Regions from separate parts of the Homo sapiens genome. Here region 2 is linked to region 1. Evidence: fine-mapped expression QTL. A gene starts in region 1. The other region holds a variant in brackets. All regions are shown on one strand. Distances are between the middles of the regions. Region 1 holds the start of CHSY1 (chondroitin sulfate synthase 1). Region 2 overlaps CHSY1 (chondroitin sulfate synthase 1).

Evidence for each region. PIP is the estimated chance that this variant, and not a neighbour inherited with it, causes the effect. A credible set is the group of variants that fine-mapping cannot tell apart.
Region 2: its variant is the best candidate, but not a certain one, in a credible set for the expression of CHSY1 in whole blood (INTERVAL, PIP 0.81).

The regions. Positions count from the first base shown.
Region 1 is chr15:101,250,461-101,254,728 of GRCh38, reverse strand. It overlaps CHSY1 (chondroitin sulfate synthase 1), which reads left to right and starts at 2,681. Exons shown (of 3, transcript NM_014918.5): 1 at 2,681-3,592. The coding sequence starts at 3,273. RefSeq lists silencers at 2,217-2,596, 2,767-3,076, 3,267-3,696.
Region 2 is chr15:101,204,381-101,208,648 of GRCh38, reverse strand. All of the region lies in intron 2 of CHSY1 (chondroitin sulfate synthase 1), which reads left to right. Among named protein-coding and RNA genes, the nearest start is that of CHSY1, 46 kb to the left of the region's middle. RefSeq lists a silencer at 2,755-2,920. The variant C/T (reference allele first, on the strand shown) is at 2,542.

The DNA of each region.
Region 1 (4,268 bases):
CTCAACAGAGAAGGCCAGTAGCACAGTGAAATCAAGAAGCCCGGAACATGAAAAGTCTTTCCTCAGCTCCCTGCAGTGAAATCCCTATAAATGCGAATCACCCTGCCTACTCCTTACCTTTAAAAATTACTTAGGGTGAGGGGGCTTTAGGATGAGGACAGCCTTGGCCTCCAGGGGGCTGTGGGGAAGGACGCATGTGTGTGCATTGGGGGCAGATGTTCCAGACCCTCGTTGTCCTCCCTGGCTCCTTGCTGGTATTGACTAGTGGGGCTGGGCATGGGACAGGCCTTCATACTGGGGGTACCAGTCCTGTCCAGCTGTTTGGGTCTCTGGCTGTCACTGAAGTTCTTGATTCCAGGTATTTGCTACTGGCTGTGAAATCCCCACTTAGGATAGCCTTGTCTCCTGAGCCAGGCCCCTTACTGGGACACTTTTGGATTCTTCCCCAGGAGAACTGCCTCAGCTCAACAATCCAGCTGCTCCTTCCAGATGTGCTAGAGCTTGCCCTCCTGCTCCTAGGCTGCATGCCGGAATTGGTCCCTGCCCCTGGCAGACTTCTACAGGACCTCAGTTTCTCTCTTCTCCTTCCAACCCTCTCTTGGCCTGGCATATCCCTCTTCTCCCAGAGGGAGTTCCCGTATGTCTTACTCTCCTTCTCCAGGGAATTGTAAGCCCTCAGGCTCAGCCTTTACAAAGAAAAGGGTATCCTTTCTACATTACGAAAGACCCCCATTAAGCCTGCAGGTGAGACAGGTGAGACTGTTAACCTAGGAACTGAGGGACAACTAGGAACCAGGATATTGAGGAGGACAAAATATTTGGCATCCTCAGAATATTATTCCCATCAGATATTTATATACTTTTTTTTTTTTTTTCCTTGAGACGGAGTTTCGCTGTTGTCGCCCAGGCTGCAGTGCAATGCAATGGCACGATCTCGGCTCACAGCAACCTCCACCTCCCGGGTTCAAGCGATTCTCCTGCCTCAGCCTCCCGAGTAGCTGGGATTACAGGCATGCACCACCACCCCCGGCTAATTTTGTATTTTTAGTAGAGTCGGGGTTTCTCCATGTTGGTCAGGTTGGTCTCGAACTCCTGACCTCAGGCGATCCGCCCGCCTCAGCCTCCCAGAGTGCTGGGTTTACAGGCGTGAGCCACCGCGCCCGGCCAGCTTTTCACTGGACACTAGTTTCGAAGAAAACTAGGTAAGTCTAAAGCAGGTTAGAAAATACTGAAATCGTTGAATATGCTACAAAATTGAACATCTGAATCTGGCCAGATTCGTACTTCATGTAAATCACTGTGAATGATGGGGCTGCTGAATTTGGGGGATCTGGTGACTCCTCGGCATTTGTGGTTTATGGTCTTAGTGGAAACCTTTTTCGATGGTTTTCGAGCCTGTAATTCATGGTTGTATGTTCTGTATTTTTCCCAAGACCACTGCTGGAATCCTGTATTCACTGCATAATGAGTATTTTATTTTTAGATGTGGATCACCCCTTAGGGAGGGGCTCTGTGGGAAGGTAGGTAATGAACTATTTTTAATATAAATCACAAGTGTCAAAGAAAGTGGTAATATCCAAAGAATAAACAAGAGTGACCACCATTCAGGTGCCGAGAAGGTATCTGAAGCTCCCACAGGCATTTTAAACTGTGTGATAGTATTTCAACCATTTGGTCAACAATGAAGAAAGATCCAAGGATTGCCCCAGGCATGTGTTTATTTGATTCAATGCAGGTAACTTCTCAGGCCCAGGGAAACACTTTGCCCTTCAAAAGTTTCATTAGAAAACCCCAATATACTGGTGACTAAGTAACAAGACTGAAACTCTACACAAACTTTCGTTGTATGGAGACCTCCGCTTTTGCTGCCTTAGCTGAAGTATTGCAGAGGAAATGTATAAAACTTAAAATCCAGAGTAGAGGATCTGGGACCCAAAATCCGTCTTTAGAAATCCACGGCACTTTTACAGACGGACTATATTAAAGTAGGGACAAAGTCCCAGGCTGGGGGTACTAGCCGGCTATCTGCCCACACAGTATGTAAATGAAAGTAGGGTTTACCATCCAGGGCATTAACTTCATTTTCCTTGTCTTCGAGATCCATTAAATGCTAGTACTGTATGAGAAGCGTGGACCTTAAGTATTAAAGATGGCTTTTTCTTCTTCTTCTTCTTATTTAGCGTAGAAACTAGCAACAGGGAACAAGGTAACTGAATTCACGGTCCACTCGCAGGCGCGCACGTCCCCAGGGCTCCGGGACGGCTGTTCCCTGCGTGCGGCCGCGGGACTGCGGACAAAGCTGCAGTGTGGTCGGGAGCGCGGGGCCGGGAGCGCGGGGCCGGCCCGGCGGCAGGAAGGGCGTGGCCGTGGGGTGCAGCGAGGACGGCCCGTGCGGGAGGAACGTGCGCAGCGTGGAGTCTGGGGGCCGAGAAGCCCCCACTGCAAGGCTGGCTCCCGAGATTCGCGCCCGGGCGCCGCGGTGCGGGAAGCGGCCGTCCTCGCGGGGACGCCCTTGCGCCGGGTGCTAGGTGCGGATCACGGGCAGCTCCGGCCCCGCGGGCGCCGGGCGGGGGCCCACGCCCCCTCCGCCCGCCAGCTCCAGTCGCAGACCGCGCGGGCGGGGCGCCCGAGAGGGCTTTTTTTTTTTTTGGTCAAACTTCGGCCACGTGAACCGCCCCTCATTCACTTTTGCGCCAATCGCGCGGCGCGGACGGATCCCGAGAGGGGCCACGGCTCGCCGCCGGCGGGGCCACTTCATAACGCGCCGTGCGTGACGTGAGGGGCTCCTGTTGCAATGGCGAGCTAAGCCGGAGGATGTGCAGCTGCGGCGGCGGCGCCGGCTACGAAGAGGACGGGGACAGGCGCCGTGCGAACCGAGCCCAGCCAGCCGGAGGACGCGGGCAGGGCGGGACGGGAGCCCGGACTCGTCTGCCGCCGCCGTCGTCGCCGTCGTGCCGGCCCCGCGTCCCCGCGCGCGAGCGGGAGGAGCCGCCGCCACCTCGCGCCCGAGCCGCCGCTAGCGCGCGCCGGGCATGGTCCCCTCTTAAAGGCGCAGGCCGCGGCGGCGGGGGCGGGCGTGCGGAACAAAGCGCCGGCGCGGGGCCTGCGGGCGGCTCGGGGGCCGCGATGGGCGCGGCGGGCCCGCGGCGGCGGCGGCGCTGCCCGGGCCGGGCCTCGCGGCGCTAGGGCGGGCTGGCCTCCGCGGGCGGGGGCAGCGGGCTGAGGGCGCGCGGAGCCTGCGGCGGCGGCCCGGCGGGCGGAGCGGCGCGGGCATGGCCGCGCGCGGCCGGCGCGCCTGGCTCAGCGTGCTGCTCGGGCTCGTCCTGGGCTTCGTGCTGGCCTCGCGGCTCGTCCTGCCCCGGGCTTCCGAGCTGAAGCGAGCGGGCCCACGGCGCCGCGCCAGCCCCGAGGGCTGCCGGTCCGGGCAGGCGGCGGCTTCCCAGGCCGGCGGGGCGCGCGGCGATGCGCGCGGGGCGCAGCTCTGGCCGCCCGGCTCGGACCCAGATGGCGGCCCGCGCGACAGGAACTTTCTCTTCGTGGGAGTCATGACCGCCCAGAAATACCTGCAGACTCGGGCCGTGGCCGCCTACAGGTGAGCCCCTGCTCCCCGGGCACCGCCTCCTGCGTCCGGCATCCCGGCGGCCGGCATCCCGGGTGCTCTCCTGGCTCTCGCCTCCGCCCGCTTCCTAGGCCCTTCTTGGGCTTCCGGCGGGATCGGGTTGCCTCTCGGGAGACGCCGGGCCGAGGGAGAAAAGATCAGAGGCGGGATGGTGAGCGCGGCGCTCAGGAACATGGCCTTTGGGGTCAGATGGACTAGTGTGGCCTCGCTGGGTGTACCTCTCACCCTGATGAAGGCACTTTAGCCTTTGCAAATCGAAGCTTCTCGTTAGAAGGGCCCGACAGATCGGGTCTCCCTCATAATGTTGGAAAACTCATAGCACAGTACCTGATAGTGGAGGCAGTTGGGGCTGATACTGGATTCCCTAAAATGTGCACCTTTGTCCTTGCAAAGCTGGAGCCCGTGTACGTTAATCTAGTTCTAGAACCTTTCCACATCATACTCTCACATTTCGCAGTTGGAGGCACTCCTATAAATGAAAGAGAATGCCCGCAGCATATTGGACCACACCAGTCTGTTGAGTACAGAGAGAGAGAACCTTGGGGAAAAGCAGTTCTTGGCCCTTGGTAGATTCAGTGGAAAACTGCATTCTGGTGTTAATTAGTTCAGCTTGGTGGTGTATGCATGTTATCCAGTAACTGGGCTCTAG
Region 2 (4,268 bases), 46 kb after region 1:
CTCCGCCTCCTGGGTTCAAGCAATTCTCATGCCTCTACCTCCCGAGTAGTTGGTATTACAGGCGTCCGCCACCATACCTGGCTAATTTTTGTATTTTTAGTAGAGACGGGGTTTCACCATGTTGGTCAGGCTGGTCTCGAACTCCTGACCTCAAATGATCCACCCGCCTTGGGTTCCCAAAGTGCTGGGATTCCAGGCATGAGGCACCATGACTGGCCTTCTGTATCTTTTTGATATGCCCCTATAACTGTTTGAGCAATTTCTTTCTGGCATACTAAGATGTTTCAGGCTGTTATTTTTTCCCTGCCCTAGCCTTGCAGTCTGCCATCTCTCGAAGAGTCTCTGGTTCTTTTTAGTGGAAAACATTTAGAAGCCAAGATCTAGACTGTGGGTGTGCTCGTTGCTGTGGGTGTTGGCTGGCCCACTCCTGAGCAGTGGGCTGACCAGGGGAAAATGTGCATGTGTGTGTGTGTCCTTGGGTTCCCCCTGATACTCCAAATCCCATTTCAACCCCAAAGGGTTCTTCCTCTTCTCTCCCTTTCTGTATTTGTAATTGCTTTATTTGACAGTTGAGAAATCTAGCTGCTCATTGGCCTCAGCCACATTTACTTACTGCATCAGTTTCCGCTGTAAGTGAGCAATCCTCTGTTGCAATGCCTCCTTCCCGGTGCCTTCCCTATGTGACTCAACTCAAGGGTTGGCGGCCTACCTGACGCCCCAAGGCTGGGCCACTGCACCAGCCCACCCTCACCCCATCTGGGGACCCTATCTTGCTTGACCCCACTAGTGGCTTTTTACTTCAGGACAACGGGTGGGGCAGGGGCAAGAAGCCTAACTCCATCTTGAAATAAGCTTTTCAATTTTAGTTACTAGATTCCAGGTACTACCTGTGTCACATGGCAACGCAGCCCTCATTCTCAGAGGATTTTAAAAACCTGTTGGTAAATTTAGCAAGACTGAATATTTGCTTGGATAGTATATTCTGGAAGATCTATTTTCTTTGAGTGTTTATTTGTGCCAAATATTCAACTTTTTTTTTCTAGTAGATTGGGTCTTGTCTTAATTATTTCTGTATTCCATTTAGAGGTTAACATATGAGGCACTTGAGTGTTTGATGAATTAACAGATACAGAGCATATGAGAGAGGCACCTGGAAATTTAAGAAAAATATCCTGTTAACATTGAAATGAAATATTATATAACATACTAGAAGGTATTGTTGTTCACAGATAGCCAGCATCATGAGTTGGTTCTAAAAATCAGAATGAACAATTTTTAAAATACTGTTGTTAGTTGGCGAAGTGAAGACTTGGTGACGCTGATTCTTCCCATTCTGAAGGGTTATGTGGACGTAACTCTTTCCTTTGCTTTCAGCCAAAGACTTTTTATTTCCAAAAATGAGGTATAGAAGAAAAGACTTTTATTCCCATTTTGGATAGTGAGTGGCTTATTTTTCTTTTGACTGCAAATGCTGTGTTAATATAAAAAACATTTGTCAAGAGTAGACCCTTTCTGAGAAATATATTAGACAATATTTGTTTCAGTTATCTTAGTAGGATTTTTCCCCTTTTAGGTTTTGTTTGTTTCCTTTTGGCTTTGTTTTGTTTGGTCTTGTTTCTTTTAAATTAAACTAATTTTGGAATGTGCTGACACGCGAGAGTGGTACTGGATAGCCAGTGGAAATGCGTGGCATACGTTCCTAGAACATTAATTTTACCTGAGGTCTGGGAGAGAGACTTTTTTTATGAGATAAACATGGGTGTCCTAGAGTATCATTGCAAATTAGTGTGAATTTTTATGATTAAAAATGAGAAAAGAAATTTGGTATTTTTTGGAGGACTATTTTAGGCTGTGCCCCAAAACCCTGGGAATATTTGTTCACTCTCTCTGCCATTATGGCTGCTTCTGTGTAGGGAAAATAAAATGACAAACCTACATGTTTTCTCACAGATGATAAATGTATTTCTTCTTCTCTGTAGCCTATTAATTAATATCTAACACTGCTGTCTCTTCTAGCTTCCACAGTTTACTTTCTTTTGGTGCATAATTTAATGAGTGTTCGTTTATTTTCTGAAGTGTTATTTGTATAAAGTGAGCCCACATAAAAGCTTCTTTCCAAAGTGTTTTCATGGGAAACGGATCTTGGTGGTGATCTGTCACTTAGCACGTCACCGCCTTCAGAGCCCCAGCTGATGACTAACCCCACAGTGGGAGCTGCTACCCCTGCCTGTGGGTAGTGTGCCATGTCCTCCCTCACTGCGACCTCCACCCCTGCCTCTGACTCAGTGGTTCTCTTCAGTGGATCATATGAGTCTTTAGAAACAAATACCTGGTCGTTGGTTCTCCTGCCGACTCGAGACCTGGTGGGTTTTCCCTTGTCTGTCTAGTTTCACTCCGTGGCGCACGAGGCACACCATGCCTGTGCAGCCCTAGTCTTATCTCCTGAATCAAACCTCTCGCCTCAGAGGCTCACCCGGGGAGAGAAAGGAGAGCAGACAGAGATTGGAGTTTGAAATTAAACTTCTCATTTAGTATTGCAAA[C/T]GTTATGAAGCATATATCAAAAATCAAATGTCCTGGAATCCTGCTGCCTTAGTGATGGAGCGTATTACTGTCTATAGGAACTTGAAATAGAAAACACTACCATACCAGGATCATGGGGTAGAGCAAATTAATAAACAATCTTCTTTTTTTTTTTTTGAGACGGAGTCTCTCTCTTTCGCCCAGGCTGGAGTGTAGTGGCGCTATCTCGGCTCACTGCAAGCTCCGCCTCCTGGGTTCACGCCATTCTCCTGCCTCAGCCCCCCTGAGTAGCTGGGACTACGGGCGCCCACCACCACGCCCAGCTAATTTTTTGTATTTTTAGTAGAGACGGGGTTTCACCGTTTTATCCAGGATGGTCTCGATCTCCTGATCTCGTGATCCACCCACCTCAGCCTCCCAAAGTACTGGGATTACAGGTGTGAGCCACCACGCCCGGCCAACAATCTTCAAAATTAAAATTCTTCACTTAGAGCAGAATAAGCATGTATGGGTTTGTGTGTTTAAATGTCAGGCTGCTAATACTAATAGTCGTTAGTAGAAAAATCAAGCTCAGTTTTGTGATCACAGTACTCTTCAGGTTTGGGTATGTGTCTTTTCACAAGTAGCTATAAACATCTGGTAGACCTGTGTGTTTTCTCTAGTTATCAGGAAACATTGTGGAGTCTATGTCAATTGATTACTAGCTTGTTTATATAAATGGGGAAATATAAAGACCAGGCTTTTTCTTAAACAACTGAAGAGTATGCTGGTTCTAGTTTCTTTCCTCTGAATCATGTGTGTGTGGTGGCAATTTAGTGACTGGGAGGCACTGGAAATTATTGGTTATAATAAATTGATGTCATGCCCACAGCACAGCAGGCAAAAAGGATGAATTAGAGACAGAAATAGTAATAGGGTTTTGTCCAGGAAACCTCAAGCATATGAGGTATTGCCATGTTGATTACTTTAAAAAAAGAAAAAAAAAGATAAAATATTAGAACTTTAAGCTTAATAAAAATAGATTACAGAGGAAAAACTTCTTGCTTTATGCTTCTGAAAATCTCTCTGAGTAGTTAAAGAGCTGTTTAGAAATCTGTTAGCCATACTTTCATGATTTGCTGGTGGATAGAGTATGTAGTATTGCGAAAAATTAGTTACTATGATCTTCGCCAAGTGACAGTATTCTTAACTCTGCCAGATGGTCTTTTTTGTGTGTGTGGCGGGGGGATGGAGTCTCGTTCTAGTGCCCAGGCTGGAATGCTGTGGTGTGACCTTGGCTCACTGCAACTTTCGGCTCCTGGGTTCAAGCAATTCTTGTGCCTCAGCCTCCTGAACAGCTGGGATTATAGGTGTGTGCCACCATCCCCAGCTAATTTTTTGTAGTTTTAGTAGAAATGGGGTTTCATTATGTCAGTCAGGCTGGTCTTGAACCCCTGTCCTCAAGTGATCTGCCTACCTTGGCCTCCCAAAGTGCTGGGATTACAGGTGTGAGCCACCATGCCCAGCTGGATGGTCATTTTTAACCACTGTTTTTTGGGGGGCAATTTTTATTTTGAAAAAATTTAACTTAATAGAAAACTCCTATAAGTCTTTCACCCAAATTCCCTGATTATTAATATTTACCACATCAGCTTTATCATTTTCTCTATAAGTGTACATTATTATTATTATTATTATTATTATTATTATTATTTGAGATGGAGTTTCGCTCTTACTGCCCAGTCTAGAGTGCAATGGCACGATCTCGA